Regions from separate parts of the Homo sapiens genome. Here region 2 is linked to region 1. Evidence: fine-mapped expression QTL. Tissue or cell type: whole blood. Region 1 holds a variant in brackets; the other region holds the start of a gene. All regions are shown on one strand. Distances are from middle to middle.

Region 1 (8,330 bases):
TCTCCACTTTTTGAAGAAAGCCTCTTGAAGGTAGATGCAGTGTTCCCAGTGCCCTCTATGGGAGTTTTTCACTTTTTTGGTGCTATGAAACCCTTTGGCAATCTGGTGAAGCCCTGTATCCCTTTTCCAAATAGCTTTAAATGCACAAAATAAAATACATTAGATTACAAAGGATATGAATTATATTGGCACAAGTATTAAAATATTTTCCAAAAAGTCTATTCAGTCTTACAGGTGATAATGGCTGCCTGCTGTTGTCAGACACAGAAAGCTTCACCGTCCCTTGTAAGTTTCTTTTAGATCTGTCTACACTCTTGTAAATAGTTCCTTTCTCAAATACCTCCATTTAAGTGTGGTAGCTCTTCCTCCTTCCACCCTCACTTTGATGAATCTAGTGTGCAGCTCTCTTATGGGGTTTTGATTTTACCCATGGCCGCAGATCTATCCGTGCATCAGACACACTCATACACAGCTGAATCCCAGTGTAGATTCCCTGGTACTCATCCCTGACATTCCTACAGAAAGATCATTTTACTGTACATTTGACCACCTTCCTGTTTGCTTTGACATCTCATTTATTCATTCATTTGTTCAACAAATGGTCCACATTTTTGCATGCCTTAAGCTGCCTTTGCTGTTTTTAAAATGGTGAGGCAGCATACAGATTATGGAATTTGGAGAAAGGCAGACATTTTTGCCACTTACTAAGAGGAAGCTCGGGCAAGTTAGTTAGCCTGCCCCGACCTTGGTTTCCTTAATTCTTAAGGATGGCAGTTGTGAGTATTAAGTGGGCTAAGGTATGAAAAGTGCCGAGAGCCATGCCTGGCCCACAGCCGATGTCCTAGATCAGAGTTCTAAGGAAAATGACTTTAAGGCAGATATCTGTGTAAAGAAGTTCCTGCAGGCCAGGCGCAGTGGCTCACGTCTGTAATCCCAGCACTTTGGGAGGCCAAGACGGGCAGATCATGAGGTCAAGAGATTGAGACCATCCTAGCTAACATGGTGAAACCCCGTCTCTACTAAAAATACAAAATGTAGCTGGGCCTGGTGGCGTGTCCCTGTAATCCCATCTACTCGGTCGGCTGAGGAAGGAGAATCACTTGAACCTGGGAGCTGGAGGTTGCAGTGAGCCGAGATTGCGCCACAGCACTCCAGCCTGACGACAGAGTAAGACTCCATCTCAAAAAAAAAGAAGTTACTGCAAAGTGTTCCCAGGATCAATACACATGGTTGAATGAGGATAATAGGACTAAGAAGAGGACTGGGTTACAACAAAAGCCTCAACTAACCCCAAGACAGCTCTGAAGTTGGGACAGCCCTTTTAAGTTGTCCCACTTCGAGGCATGGTGTTTTCCCTTTTACCTACCAGTCTGGAGAAGACTGTTCCCAAGAAAAGAGCATAATTTTGGAGATGAGCGTTCTCTCTACCTGAGAACAGTGATCAGAGAGATACAAGGCTGAGAGGTGTTAGCTGCCAACAGTCCCAGCCACTAGGGGAAAGAGTGCCTCAGTCCTAAAGGGGAGATCTGAGGGACACACTACAACATCTTCAACACTGAATATTTGTTAAATAACTGGACAGCCATCACCATCTCCTTTAACTTGCATCCCTTAATGTGTGTAAGGACACAACCACTCTGAAAAGCATCGATACAGACAGGAATAACCAGATAAAATGGTTTTGAACAATAATTTGTCAAAATCCATTTGAAGGCTAGAGTTGAAAGCCGAAAGCATTTGAAGAGGTTTCAAACCATGCTTCCTTGGGTAGGGTGAGGTGAGATGAAAAGGGAGACGTAGGATGATGTTAAAGCTGGAAGAATTCCAAGCTTGACTTTATTCTATGTATGATTTCTCTAAAGGTTTGTCTTCAAAAGCACACCCTCAGAGTACACATATGTTTCCTAGGAGGGGAGGAAAGCCCCTCACCTTTTTTCAGGCTGTGTCTATTGAGGGGGATGCTAACAGGCCTGGACAACTTGGGCTGTGTCAGCAGCAGGCTCTCTGCCCCTGTTGGTTAATCAGCACACCAGGGTGCGAGCAAGGCAGCAGGCTGCCACAAGGGCAGGGCCGGGAAAGTTGAGTGTGGCATATACAGGAGGCTTGGACAGAAGCGCTCACAATATTCATTGCTAACAGGGTCCTCTGCTTCAAATCCCTGCTGCTCAGGGAGAACAAAAGAATTCATGGAGACTCAGGGCTCTTCCTGGAGTCTTGCACATAAGCAATAGCCATTCTTCATGGCTATAAGGCAGGATCGAGCCCTCAAGGCGTCTTTCCTAATTCCTGGCACCCTTGGATTACTGCAGACAAGCTTTCCATTCAGGATGGAAGGAGACCCCTGGGAAGCAGCACCTGCCCAGGGAGGGGAAGTGCTGGAGGAAGTTCCAAGCTGAGAACACAGGTTTACAGCTGGTTTATTATAAGTGTACTCTCTGTTCTCTTTCCAAACAAACAGCAGGATTGGGAATGACAATTCACCTCAAGGATTTTAAAAGAAAAGTGATGGAAATAAAGGGTGGTTAATTCACCTAAAACTCCAAACACAATCCGTGTTTTGGATCCATGTTATTTTGCCTCTAGGCTTTTTGTTTTTGTTCTTTGTCATTCAGTGACACCCTCTCCCTCCTTCTTTTCATGAAAATTCTGCCCGTTTTTTCTAAGGCCTGGCTAAAATTTCACCACTAAACTTATTCCAACATTTTCCAACTTCCCCTGACTACACATGCCTTTCTTGTGTAAAATCTTTCATTACATTAGGGTCATAGAATGATGAGAATCTTCATTACTAACATAGCTGACATTTATTAAGTGCCAATTATGTGCCTACACTGTGCTAAATGCTTTACATGGATTATCTTATTTAATGCTCAAAACAGGTCTATGAGTGAAGTCACTTTGTTAGCACCATATTCCATGTAAAGAAACTCATTGCCCCAGTTCTTTTCCTTGTCTGTATCCACCCCTTGGCCATAGGGGTTCTTCCCAGTAGATGTAATGCATGCTTCCCTGTTCATTGTCTTGAGTCTCAGCTGTGTGAGTTGCTTTGGTCAATGGGATATTCATAGCCATATGTCAGACAAACCTTGACATGGATTTGCACAGGGAGTTTTTCCTCTAGTGCTTCCACCATTGCCATGAGAATACACTCCAGTCAGACTGCAGATCCAATGGGGATAGCAGACATGGAAAGTAGACCTGAGCCCAGCTGCCAGCCTAGAACCCAGGCCAGCTAGATCGGCAACTTGAAGCCTAGGTTCCCAGCTGACTAGCTGCCTCTTGTGTAGTCACATGAACAAGAATAAATACTAGTCATTTTAAGTCACTGAGTTTTGAGGTGGTTTGTTACTCAGTGATAGTTTACCGATACAGGAACCCACCAAGAGGTTGTTACTTGTCCAGGGTCTTACAAGTAGTGATGATAAGAAGATTCTAGCACAGACTGGTTCCAGTTCAGCTCCCACTTTCTTAATAACCATGGCTTCCATTTTCACCACCACCACTACCATTATCATATTCTTCCTTCTCTTCCTCCTCCTCCTCTTCTCCTTCTTCGCCTTCATCCACATCCATTTACTGAATGCTTACTATGTGCCAGGCATCCAAAGAAGTACCATTCATGTATTATCTTATATATCAACAACTCGTTAATGTAAGTACTATTACTGACCACATTGTACAAGAAGTTTTGTGACACAGCTTGTAATGGACAGAGCATGGGTTCATTTCAGATCTGCCTCATCTCAGAGTTTTCATAACTTCCATGTTCTACTTCAATACACTGCTACATTTTGAGAGAAATCATAGCCATCACTAGAGAAAAATATTGATCACTTATGCCTCTTTATACCCCAACTTTTTCAGGAAGCCACCTCAAACCCCCCAAGGGTTGCTTTTGAAAGTTTTTGTCTTGCTTTTGAACATTTTTAAGAATAGTAAGGTCAGGTGCGGTGGCTCATGCCTGTAATCCCAGCACTTTGGGAGTCCGAGGCGGGCAGATCATGAGGCCAGGAGATTGAGACCATCCTGGTTAACATGGTGAAACCCTGTCTCTACTAAAATACAAAAAATTAGCCAGGTGTGGTGGCAGGCATCTGTAGTCCCAGCTACCTGGGAGGCTGAGGCAGGAGAATGGCGTGAACCCGGGAGGCGGAGCTTGCAGTGAGCCGAGATCGAGCCACTGCACTCCAACCTGGGCTACAGAGTGAGACTCCTTCTTAAAAAAAAAAAAAAAAAAAGAGAATACTAAGTTCAGTTTTCAAGCATCTGGAAGATCTGCTTTAAACTATTATTTTAGAAACAAGGACCCTTGGGCTTAGAGAAATGAATTTATATGCAGCAAATAGTAGAATATCCAAGGCCATACTCTGAATGCTCAACTTCAGCCTTCTGCTGGTAGGAGACCCCAGCCCATCTGTGTAGAGCAGAAATGGCAATCTGATGTCTCACTACTTAAGTAGAATTTCGTTTTTAGCTTTACTTTAGCCTTCACATCCAGAGGTGTCTGAAGGCAGGCAAGCTTCATGGGTGTGCAACCTGAACAGTCACATAAGGTTCTGCACTTAGAAGGTCCCCATACTTGGTTTAATACTGTACTGCCACCATCTTTAAATTCTTAATTATTTCAAAATAAAAGGGCTGCTCTTTTATTTTGCACTGAGCCTCACAAACTGCATAACCAGTCTTGCAGAGGTATCTGATGCTTTAATTCCATAGATTTTGGGGGATTCTTCAATATGCAGTGAGTTGCTTCTCAACTTTGCACTTTGCTGACTATCATCTATAAGGTCACAGGCCCAAGGAGAAGAATGTTAAGAACAGGATACTAAGCACCACCATAGTCCAACAATCCAGTGGTACCTCCATGCAAATACAGGTGTGGACTTCAAAATGCTGGCAGCCAGATTTCAGCCATTGATTAAAAGTGACCCTTCTTCATTTGAATACTCCCTTCTCCC[A/G]TGCTCACAGGAGGCTTCACTACGTCTTTTTGCCATGAAGTCATTCCAAATTATCACCATCCTTGAATCATATTACCTTCATAAGAAGTCACTTTGAATGAATAACACTATTTTGACCCTGAGAATAATACAGAATGATCTTGAAGCTATTTTAATAAAAATAAATCATGAAGTATCTCCTTCCATTTTCCCTACCTTCATAAATAGCATAGTTAATAGATAGCCTTATAATAAAAGATGTCGGTGTAATGTAAAATCCACATAAAATATCAACCTTAACATCACAGTGGTACGAGTCAGCTAATTTCTCCTCCTATCCCAACCTTGTTCTTACATTCAAAACTTTTAAAAAAGATTAGATCAATAGAACTACATGTTGGCTGTGAAAAAAAGTGACTTACCCCATGAGATAGAAAAGACTAAAACCTCTATAAAGGTGAACTAATAGGAAACTATAAATGAATTGTGTTGCCACATAGAGTCATCTGAAAAAGTTTTATTAAAAATGCCTCCAAAGTATATTAGATTTTATATTATACCAGGTGGAGCTAGGATGAGGGAGTGAGTTTATAGAGGAACTGTTGAACACAATTTTATTAGAATGGTTGTTCCCCTGATTATAATAAGGAGAGAAATAAGACTTATTAGTTTGGTTATTTGAAACATGCACACATACACTTTCTCACACAACTCTAGTTCTGGGCAGGGTAAAAGTTCCCTTCCTCAGCTGAGAGTGAGCTTGAAAATGTTTTATTGCTATTACAGGAAACGCTGTTTAAGTATCGTCTTTTATAAAATGCTCCCATTGTAAGACACATTCTTGGTTTTATTTTCTGCTATGATGATGGTAAATTCTGATTAAACATAGGGGATTGTTTACAACACGGGGAAAGACCAGCATGCAGCCCTAAGCGATTTAAAGTCAGAAGTAGATAAGATATTTTAGAATGTCAAAGTAATTTGCCAAATACAACATGGGGAGAGGTAGAAGAAAAAAGGCATATTCTTTTATGTTTCATTCCTTAAGGGGGACATCTAAAACATGTATCGATTTAACATGGCTCGGAAATTAAAGTTATGATATCAATAACATATAGCTAACCACATGTCAGAATGAAGGAAGATTGTATCTTGGAATACAGGAGTCTTCCTTGTGCAAATCCCATTAGGACCAATAGGGAGTTATTCATGCATCCAAATCCCTCCCGTCCTTCCCCTCCCCACCCCCAGACACAGACACCCTTGTTCTGAATGATCCGTGTATTTATCTATTTCACATAAATCAAGAATTTAATTAAAAAAAATCCACAAACATGGCTATTTGAGAAATGAATCATGAGAGCTGTATGTATAAATCATATAGACCTTAAAAGCGTTTATGATATAGCCCCTTTCATATAAACCGACCAAATGTTTTGGAGAGCTAAATCATAGAGAAAAAGGAAAATGTAGTAAATAAAATAGAAAATCAATGGTTAAGCGAACTAATGAACAAAATATCTAGATGTCACTCATCTTTGAATGGCTTCCTTAGAAATTTTAACAGGAACAGGAATTGCAAGAAATTATTACTTTTGGTAAAGCAACTGAACATGTTTATAGTCAAAGATTTCTTTAAGAAATATTGCCAAAAAAACTTTTGCTAAGAAAAAAAAGGACAGTGGATTTAGAAGAATACATTAGAAATAAAAAGAGTCAGTAGATAACAAAAATATTCATTTGTCGTTACAGATCTGTTTACCAAATACTTGTTTATGATTTACTAATTCTAAATCTTCCTTTCTAAAAATGTTATTTTTCTCTAATTATTTTAATTATTTTGTTCTTTTTGCCAAAAAAATGCAATATAAAAATGTTTTCACTTATTTACCGTAAGTTTCAATCATAACTCTTAGTTTTCTAACCTTCTAAATTACTAGTGATCTGCATACCTTGTTGGATCATCAAAGACTTTTTATTTCTCTAGATGAGAATAACACTAAATGATAGTGTTTTCCATATTTTTCTCTTCAGTAACACATGTGTATGTTTATTTTGTATTTCCTCTCTGATTCTTTTATTGCCTAAAGCATTTAGCCGTTTCTGAACTAATTATGTTTCTAGGTTTATCTATTTATTTAGTATCTCTCTCACCAGACTAAGTTTCCTGACTGCAGAGACTTCGTATTTTATTGCTTTAGTGTTTAATATCATTTCCAGCATCACATATATATATATATATATAGGTTAGAAGACCAGTTGAATGTGTAGAATGAATTGATATTTGGGTAGCCAATAAAACTGATCAAGGTCCGTCTTTTTGGATGCACCTAGTTTAGCAAGCAGAAGATGTGTTTCCTAATGTGGCCTGGGCACAGTCTTTAGCCATTCACCTTTTTCAGGAATTGATTCAGCCTCTGCCCTTCCCAGAAGAGCCACATCCAGTGATTAATCAACATGGAAGTAACCAACTCGGGACAATTTTGAAGGGCTATTTCAGCTTTAGAGCCCCCTGTGAGTTTGGCCAAAGCTGCCAAGGGGCCTGTATCACAACTCAACTTCTCCATTTGCCCGTAATAAACATCTTTCATGCTAAACCAGTGAGGCTAATCTCCAAAAATGAAAAAGCAAAAAAAAAAAAAAAAAAAAGCAGAAACTCAGGCACCAAAGTGACTCAGGGTACTTCTTTTAGCCATTGAATCAAGTGGTCTCAGCCAGTTATAAGGACAAAACAAGCATTAGGAGAGATGCAACACAGCTGTCAATTTCAGGAAGGAGATGGTGGATCTGGATTATAGGTAGATAGGGTGTGCTATGAGGCTCAAGGCTGCCAGGTCTGAGGAGCCTTTAGTTCTCCAAAGTTTTAGGTCAGAGAGTATGGCCATTGGAGCAAATAACTAGTCTGCCTCACCCCTGCCTGGTTGAGAGAACTTGTTGGAAGACCTCTGCTTGGAAACAAGCACCTACATCTGGCCTCATCAGAGAAAGAGGGGCCTCCTGTGAGGGTCTTTTCAAATGCTGCACCTGCCCTGGTATGTCCTCAGGCTCTCCTTCTAGTTCCTGGGGCCTCAGTTTACCCACCTCTACATATTTCCTACATTACTTCAAAGAGGTGCTGGGAGACTTAATTAATGTTTGTCAAGCACATCTTATATGAAAGGAATCGTATGCAGTAAGTTCAAAGTAGTCTTGGCCCTGCTGTTTCTTTCATGTGTGCTTAGAAGATCTTTCAACCTTGATAAGAAGAAAAAAATAAATAAATCCCCACTTGCTGAAGTGCTTGGATTTGGACTGTCATATTATGATGCTGTCAGCATTTTCTTTGAATTTCACAGGAAAAAATGAATAAAAATCAGTCAAACAATTGCTTCCATAATCACATCATCATTCTCT
Region 2 (8,330 bases), 130 kb after region 1:
TAAGACCTGAAGTTATTACAAGTTGATTTTAATCAAGTTGGTCACTTCTGTACTGTTTCTCAGGTAACATTTACACTCACAAAGATATAAATTCTGATTTTATAAACTCAAGCATGCTTTTTAAGTTAAAATAACACAGTTGAATAACGTGTAGCCTGTTTAGTTCTGATCAAACCACTTCTAGATGAATGATGAGAATATGCAGACATCACTGATAAAATCCTCACACAATGGAATGTTTTAGGTGTTAACTAACTTAAATGATCTTCCTTTTAAGTTGTAACAGAGACACAGCATCTTCCAGGCCTTAAAAATAAAGTTGAGAGCTTCCATGCTAAATTTCCAGAAGAGGTGTCTAAAACAGTTGTTCTTATTACATTCCTATACAAAAAAAAAAGTATTCTAATCAGCATTACCTGGGAATGATTAGCTGGATCTATAATCATTTCAGGGTTAAGATGGCAGAATGTACACATACACACAAATTTTACATATGACAACAGGTGATTTCTGCTTTCATTGGATGAATTCTGAAAGAGTGGAGTGAGATCTTACTGCCTTTCAAATCTGATTTCTGCTAGCAGAGAGCACCTCACTTAGAAATGTGCTTGTAAATGAACTGATGATCAATTCAGTGTCCCCGTCGTAATGTGTAGCTGCCTCAATGAGAACGTATCTTCTGCTATGTGGCTTGCCTTTGGGACTTATTCCCATTACCAACAAATACTCTCACAAGTATAAGTCACCCTTCACACTGGGAGAAAACATCTGGAAGTGCCATTTCCCATTAGTCTATTATCAGTGTAAATTTCCCACTTGAAATTTACCACCTAAGCAGGGAAAGGCAAGAAAGAGAACTTCACTCCCAACTCCCCAAATATCTGCCAAGTGGTTGCTCTGTGATATACACTTTTGTACTCTTTTCTAGGAATTGAAGAAACCCATGCTCTATTTTAAATGTATTAAGCCAAAGAAGCATTTAAAAGTGTAGAAAAAGAATTGAAGTGGAACATATTTTTGACTAATTGCTCTAAGAACTTAGGTACAGCAGACCTCAATAGCTGCTGTAAGACATTTCCAGTCCACTAAATGCCCTTCTGATGAAACAAGCAGAAATATCCCACCTTAGAAAAACCACATGTAGTATCATAAAAGAAAAAAAAATCCACATTTCGGTGCACATGAAAAAAAAACAGGCAGCTGCTACAAACGCTTTTATCTGAAGGCTTGCCTTGTCTCTACTCAGAGCCTATCTCAGATTTAAGCACAGGACAAGAAAGTCATTGTGGAAACAATAAGATTGATTGTAGTATTGATCTCCCACGGGGATTAGATTGGGATTCAAAATCTTCCAAACCAGGCCCAGATCAACTATAAATTAGAAAGACTTTGGGGCCCTGGGCTTTGATTTTTCAATACTATCTCTGAAAACTCTGCCCTTGGCTCTGTCTACCCTAAAACCCTGGCTTAAGCGGCAGATTTATAGAGCAAAAGCTTCCAAACAGACTTAAAGAAATCTCAATCTGCCTCCCTTTTTCTCCTTTTCCCTCTGTGGAATTCTTGCACGTTTAGCTGACTAGAGGCATGCCTTTTGCCCTCATCTTCCCCATCACTTGATTTCTCTCCAATTCTTCCAGGAGGAGTAGCTCTTCTGGCTGCAAGCCAGGAAGAGGGTGCGGAGTTACTAAAGGGGAATCCCTGGCTCCCCCACCACACAAGCAGTGAGTTAAAATCAGATTCAGAAACGATAGTACAGAAGCAAGAGTGGAAACGTCCGCTGGTGCCCCGGCCAAGCTGCCTCTACAGGGACGGCTGCAGTCTGCCCACGGTGGAGGGCTTTGCAGGGTGACTCCCCGCCCCCACGCCCTGCTCCATGCCTCACCTTCATGGTGGAAGCTGCGCACAGTGTTGGCTCGGCTGGCTGCCCTCTCCAACCGGTGGTCTGGGGCGGGTGAGCCCGGCTGACCTGAGTGCCTGCGATACAGGTCTAGCATGTAGGGGGGCACCACGGCGTCCCTGCTGGGGGTGGGTCTCTGTTTCAGGCCGAACATGCTGAGCAGCCGCAACTCGAACTCGCTCAGGACCTCGTCAGAGGGCTGGGATGAGGGGCGGCCCGACGACGCCGCCGCGAACTTCCTGCGGCCCAGCTCCGGAACGAGGCCAGCCGCGCCGCCCAGGAGGACCTGGGGAAGCAGCAACGCTAGAAGACAGCGGGTCCCGGCCACCATGGTCGACCTGCGGACAGGACCGACGTGAGTCACCCGAGTTCCCCGCCCAGTCCTCCCCCCTCGCGCCCCCGCGGCCCGGTCTCCCATTTGGCTGGCGTGCCTCCTCCAGGATGCCCTCCTGGCTTGGCACACTCACGAGTCTAGGTAAGACCGACCGAAGCTCAAACGTTTGGGATAATGAAGGGTCCCAAGTTCCTGAACCAGATGATTTATCGCTCCCATCCAACGCTTAGCTCGTCTGACATCAGATTTGGGATTTGCCCTCCCCCCCAACCAAACCAGCGCCAATGACTGTCACTTTTTTGTGTGTGACACAGCGCTGACAGCCAATGCCGGGAACCTGGGAAAACCACCGCTTGATCTGACACCCTGCGTCCCCTATACAAACCCAAATGCGGAGTGCTGAGCGCTGTCTGGCATATAAACACACATAAATGGTGCATGTGACTTCCTTAGAGGCACTGTATAGAACTTCCTGACACACACACACACACACACACACACACACACACACCCTTATAGCTTCCAGACCCTGTAAGCTCAAGGCCACAACTTCTGAAGCCACTTATGACTTGTGTCCCAGGCCCCTACCCTCAGGGGTGTCTCGAAAGGCAGCTCCATCCCGCATCCCCACAGTGCAGTCAAGATACACATGTATCTTCCCGGGATTACGTAAATGGTGAATATCTATTAATGCACGTGTCAGCTGTTAAAAACACAGTACCAAGTGATCCTTCAGTACTGACCCCTCGCATTTCTGGAAACAAGTAGGGAGAACCCCAAACTCCTAGTACTTTCCTAAATGGGACACGGCTCTGAGCAAAGAAACCAAGTCTCCCGGAAACACTTGAAGAATGGAGATCACCATGGCAGAGCGGACAGGTTCTCAGCTAACGGGTGAAACCCAGGGGCTACCCTCTCAAAGGGATTTCTTTGACCCAAAAAAGTTTTTAAAAAAATTAAAAATAAATAAATAAATAAATAAAACACCTCATCTAAGTGTTAACAGCTCCAAAAGTATTCCAGGGAGAGGGGAAGAAAGAGGGGTGGAAGAGTGCGGGCCGGGAGGGTGAGGCTTACGGTCGCCCGGGGCAGCTGGAAGTGGGAGCCCCTGCAGGGCTCCGTTGCACGTGGACTGGAGAGGGGTCTGTTTACTTCTGGCCTGGACGTAAGGAAGGGCTCTACCGCAGTGGCTGCCCAAATCCCCCTCCCACCCACCACCCACCCCGGGCCCTGGCCCGCGTCCTCTACCTTTAGGAGACCGCAGTCCGTCTAAGAAGCACGCGGGGACACGTCCATTGAAAGAGCGTCCACATGGAAAAACTCTGGTCAAAGGACCTGGCGCAAGGACCGAATGTCCGTTCCTTTTCTTTGCCTCCTCCTTCTCCCGGGTGCCGGCCGCGCAGTCTCTCTTTTCACGCTGGGAACAGCGTCTCAGTGTCGGGCAAGGCCGAGGAGTGGAGGGGCGGTGGGGCTCGGAGATGGCGAAGCAGGCTCCGCTGGGGCAAAGGCACCGGCGCAAAGTGGGGTGCGCAAGTTATTCTCCCTGCAAGTTCAAGAAGTCCCCAGCCAAGTGCTGACACACAACAACAGCGAGCAGGGGGAGGAGTGCGGGGCAGGGAAGGGAAGGGAGAAAGGAGAAGCTGGTGCTGTCGTCCTCCTTAGGAACCAGCGCCCGAGGGACGCGTGGCCCCGCGCGGGGCCGGCTCCGGGACTCGGGGGTCGAGGGTCGGGCGCTCCGCGCTAGCTCCGCCGCGGCCCATGGCTCGGGGCAGCCATCCTGGGCGACGCCGGGTCCAGGGAAGGGCACGGCGGCGATCTCGGTGCCAGGCGAGTTGCCCCCCCGCATCACTCTGCCTTACTCCAGTGCACCCCCATTCGCGCTCGCCAGTTGAAAGCACCGCGGCTCTGGCGCCCCGTCGTCCTCGGGCGCATTCTCCGGCGAGTCGAGCCGAGTCCCGGGCCGCCGAGGCGGGTGGCTGTGCTCTCCCCTCGCTCTCCTAGCCCTGGGGCCAAGTGCCCTTTGTGGCTAGCCTGGGGTCCGATCACACCTCGGCCAGCGCGTCCCAGGCCCCCGATCTCCTGCAGTAGGTGCTCCGCATCGCGGCGCTAGGGATCGGCTCCGGAGTCCCCGGCGCTCTGCGCGCCCGTCCGCGGCTCTGGCGCAGCCCGGGCAGCAGAGGCCACGGCGCTGTGGCGCGCTCTGCCGGGTGCTCCAGCCCGCGCGGGGTCTGCGGCGCGCGGGTGCCTCGCGGTCCCCGGTGATCCACTCGGCGCTGGCCCCGAGAACGTTCGGGTAGCCGGCGGAGGCTGTGGCGGCAGATGTGCGGCGGCGGCTGCCAGTCCCCGGCGGGGTGTGGGAAGCGGAGCGACTAGCGCAGCGCGAGCCGGGCGCAGCGCGGCGGGGCGAGGACTCCGGCGGCGGCGACGGCGGCGGCGGCGCCGTGGCGCGGCGCTCGCGGCTTTTAAAGGGGACGCCGCCTGCCGGCTCCCTCCCGGCCGCGGCCGAACACCTCCCCCTTCGCGGCGCGGCTCGCCGGGGATCCCCGAGCGGGCGGGAGCTGCGCGCAGGGGTGTGGACGGCGCGCCCGGGCAGCCGCGGCGGGGTGGGGCGGAGGGCGGGGGCGCGCGGCCGCCAAGGGGGGCGCTCGCGCCTCCACTCCCTGCTCTCAAAGGAGAGATCAGCTGGCGCGCCGGACCCTCGCGGGGACTCTGGAGGCGAAATCCAGGACAAATGCAGGGTCAGGGTCTGGCCTCTTATTTCCCCGCTGGGCCCGTTATTCAACTTTCAGTTTGAAGTTTTTCGGTAATATACGATTTCAAAAAACAAAACAAAACAAAACACCTCAATTACAGCGTATTTTGGCATAGCATAGACGTGGGATCCACGCTTCTGTTTCCCCGGAATAGGAGGAAAATTAAAAGAAAACAGCAGGCTGGAAATTGAGTGTTTTTAAACATTAATACATAGAGATGTATGTATTTACATATGTAAATGCATGTGTACAAATTTTTTTACATAAATGTGTATGCATTTATTTTCATATCCATACGCATGTAAATTTATAGTTACATAAATATATCCAATATACAAAAATATGTGCATATATTTCTATAAATATATTCATGTATGAGAATATATGCAACCGAAGGGCCACATTTCGGTTAATATGTCTATGTATGTGACATGGATGTCATCCTGCTTTACGTGACATGTGTGTAACGTAGACTGCGTGTGTGGCAGACTGAAGGATGGATGGGAGGGATTTGATTTTTTTATTGTACAATCACTTTGTGCCTTGTGATATTTATCTCACCCAGCTCAGAGGCAGGCGATTAGCAGCTCAGAGGAAGGTAAAATAACGCACTGTGTGAACCAAGCATACAGGACAATTCCAGTTTGGGACCTTGGAACCTTCTACGCCACCCTCTTCCACCAGGCCCCCAAGAAGTAGGGCTGTGACACGTGGCCAAGTCACTCCTCAGCTGAATATTCACTGAAGTCACTCCTCAGCCGAAATACTGCTCAGAGCTGCTGCACGATGAGTCTGGGGCCAAGGCTTTCTGCCCTTCCCAGGATTCCAGGAGCCCCCATGCACAGCACCTCGGGCTTGCCCAAATGATCCCCAAAACCAAGGGCAGAAAATTTTTGGAAAAGGCCAAGTTCTGCTTTCCCAGAGCTATCGGGCCTGCGAAACAGAGAGAAAAAAGTCAGAAGCAGGAGCTGGTAATAGAACTATTATCCATGTGTATTATTTTTTCGGTAGGGGAGCTAAAATAATACTAGGTTCCGCTCACGTAAATCGGATTAGCAACCCACAGAGGCGAATTAGGCACTTGCTGTTTCTAAAGGTATAAAGGTCAAATAAGGTATTTTGGAGGAAGCCTGACTACCAGGAAAATAAAAGGGGGTGGGGGAATTATTCAGGAACATGCTACTTTATTTCCTGAAAAAAAAAAAAAAGGTGCTATAGAAGTTGATTGTCACTCAGAGTCATTGCACCGCAAACAAGGAGGCAATAAAACATATCCTACTCATGGACACAGGGCTTCTGAAATTATTTCCTTTCCTATCAAGTTTAATTGAGAAGTTAACAATTGTTTCTCTCATTACTTAGATTTCAAAAACAAAACAAAACAAAACTTCAATGAGATTTAAGTAGCTTTTAAAGAGGAGGAAAAGTTGATAACTATTGGATGCACCCGAAGAAAAAATAAATAAATATCCTGTGATGACCTCAAGGATGTCTTGCAGCTTTAGAACTTCATAACCTGGTAAGTGGAAACCTTGTCAGTTTAGAATCTGAGGGAAAATGGGTACTTCTGAACACTGTTTCATGTTAGTGCTGCCCATTGCAGAATCTCTTTTATGTAGGGTGTATGATTTCTGAGGAACTACTGAATGCTTGTTCCAAGCACAACTTACATAAATTTTGGCCCTATTTTTTTTTTTTTAGAGATGGCTGCCCTCTTGTGGTGGAAATGAGTTCGAACGCTTGAAAGAAAGAAGTCCATAAATAAATAAATAAATAAATAAGTAGTCTCCAGAGACTGATTTGGGATCGAAGTACAGGATGACTGTACCTACCCGTTTTCCAGGGAAGAGCAATAGTCAGAAATGATAAATCTAAATACAGACGAGCTATTTCTTTTTTTTTTCTCTCTCTTCACTAATGGCTACCTTCCACCTGCAACTTAGAATGCTGGGTTATTTAATACTTTGGGAGAGTGTCTGTTTGCCTTGAAAATATCACTTGCAGCTAACCATTGTCAATTCTACCGTTTTCAAAGGTCCATTCAAAGTTTTTCAGTTCAGAGGGTGAGATTCAGTCTTGCTGAGTTTATCAGACTTAGTGCATCTGCCAGCAAATGTGGAAGGGGCAGAGGTGGGAGTGGGGAGTTGTTTAAGATAGGGATAGTAGAAGTTGCAAATTCAAATGCATCAGAGGGTACAGACAAGTTATGTAAAAAAGCAAAGATGACCAGATAATGATTCCACATAAAGGAGGTTGTTGCTATTCCATTTCAGTCATCTCTTGGCAGTTTCTCAGGAGATAGTGGAAATTTGCATTTGATTGTGTGTGGACAAGACTCGGGATGAAATTAACTGCTTACAGTCATACTTTAGCAATTTTAGCACTTCAGCTCACATGATATTCCATTTTATTGCATTCTGTAGCTATTAGCATTCAGTATTGTTCTTGCTAGGCCAAACATTATGCAAATCAACATTAAAATAGTGATCCCCATGTATTGTAAAGTTCACAGCAGGCATTACGTGATCCATCTACCTTGTAATTGTCATTCCATGGAAACCTGTGGCAACTGCCCTGAGAAACCCTCTTTGCTTTTTAGCATACATATCGCTTTGTTACAAGGGTGACACCCATAACCATCCCTACTTACTTTACCTGGATGAAGTTTTTTTTACAGGAACTTGGAGCCAAGGCAAAAGAGAAGCATTTAGTCAATCAAATGTTTTCCTTTTTGGTGTTTGATTAGACATGGTAGAAAGGATGGGAGAGGTGGAGTGATTTATATCAGAAACTAGGCCAAGTTGGCCAAATCAGGATCACTGCTTTCAGCAAGTACCAACTACATCTTCTTAAAAATTAAAAAGAATGAATTTTGTGCATTGATTAGACTGTCACACAGTTTAAGATGTACACCTTAAGTTATGTCTGTAAACTATGTTGATAACACTCTAAGATGTAGTTGGGTGACCTGGGTTCTAATTCCTGGTTCTGTCATGGATGACTGACTTTAAAATGGTCATTTCATCTGTTAATTGGGGTAAATAAATATATGTTTGCTTGCTTCAGACTGACATGATGAAGGTCAAATGGATAACATGTGTGAACTTAGTTTCTGATTGCTACTCACTCTATGTATCTTCAAATGTATTCTTTGGCCTTCTGTCTGCAATATGGCCTGGTTTTAAGAAATAGGACTTTGGATGCCTTTCTTCTCCTCCTCTTTCTCCTCCTTCTCCTTCTCTTCTCCCAGCTTTTATTATATTGCCAAACAGTGGATATTTCATCAGAAAGGCCACCAGTTGGGTCAGTCAATCTAAAGCAGAGGTCCCCAACCATTTTGGCACCA

The links. PIP is the estimated chance that this variant, and not a neighbour inherited with it, causes the effect.
Region 2: it holds the start of BMP2, and the variant in region 1 is fine-mapped to the expression of BMP2 in whole blood (TOPMed, PIP above 0.99).

Annotation. Positions count from the first base shown.
Region 1 is chr20:6,892,843-6,901,172 of GRCh38, reverse strand. No RefSeq gene overlaps it. Among named protein-coding and RNA genes, the nearest start is that of BMP2, 130 kb to the right of the region's middle. The variant A/G (reference allele first, on the strand shown) is at 4,959.
Region 2 is chr20:6,764,025-6,772,354 of GRCh38, reverse strand. BMP2 (bone morphogenetic protein 2) reads right to left here and starts at 4,669. Exons shown (of 3, transcript NM_001200.4): 1 at 3,480-4,669; 2 at 1,883-2,235. The coding sequence starts at 2,228. LOC105372517 (a long non-coding RNA gene) reads left to right here and starts at 4,871. Exons shown (of 4, transcript XR_937229.2): 1 at 4,871-5,034; 2 at 5,550-5,955; 3 at 6,347-6,503; 4 at 6,686-6,762. RefSeq lists cis regulatory regions at 3,990-4,164, 4,805-4,904, 4,911-5,701, silencers at 4,536-4,585, 4,676-4,725 and promoters at 3,615-4,774, 4,164-4,805, 3,615-8,330.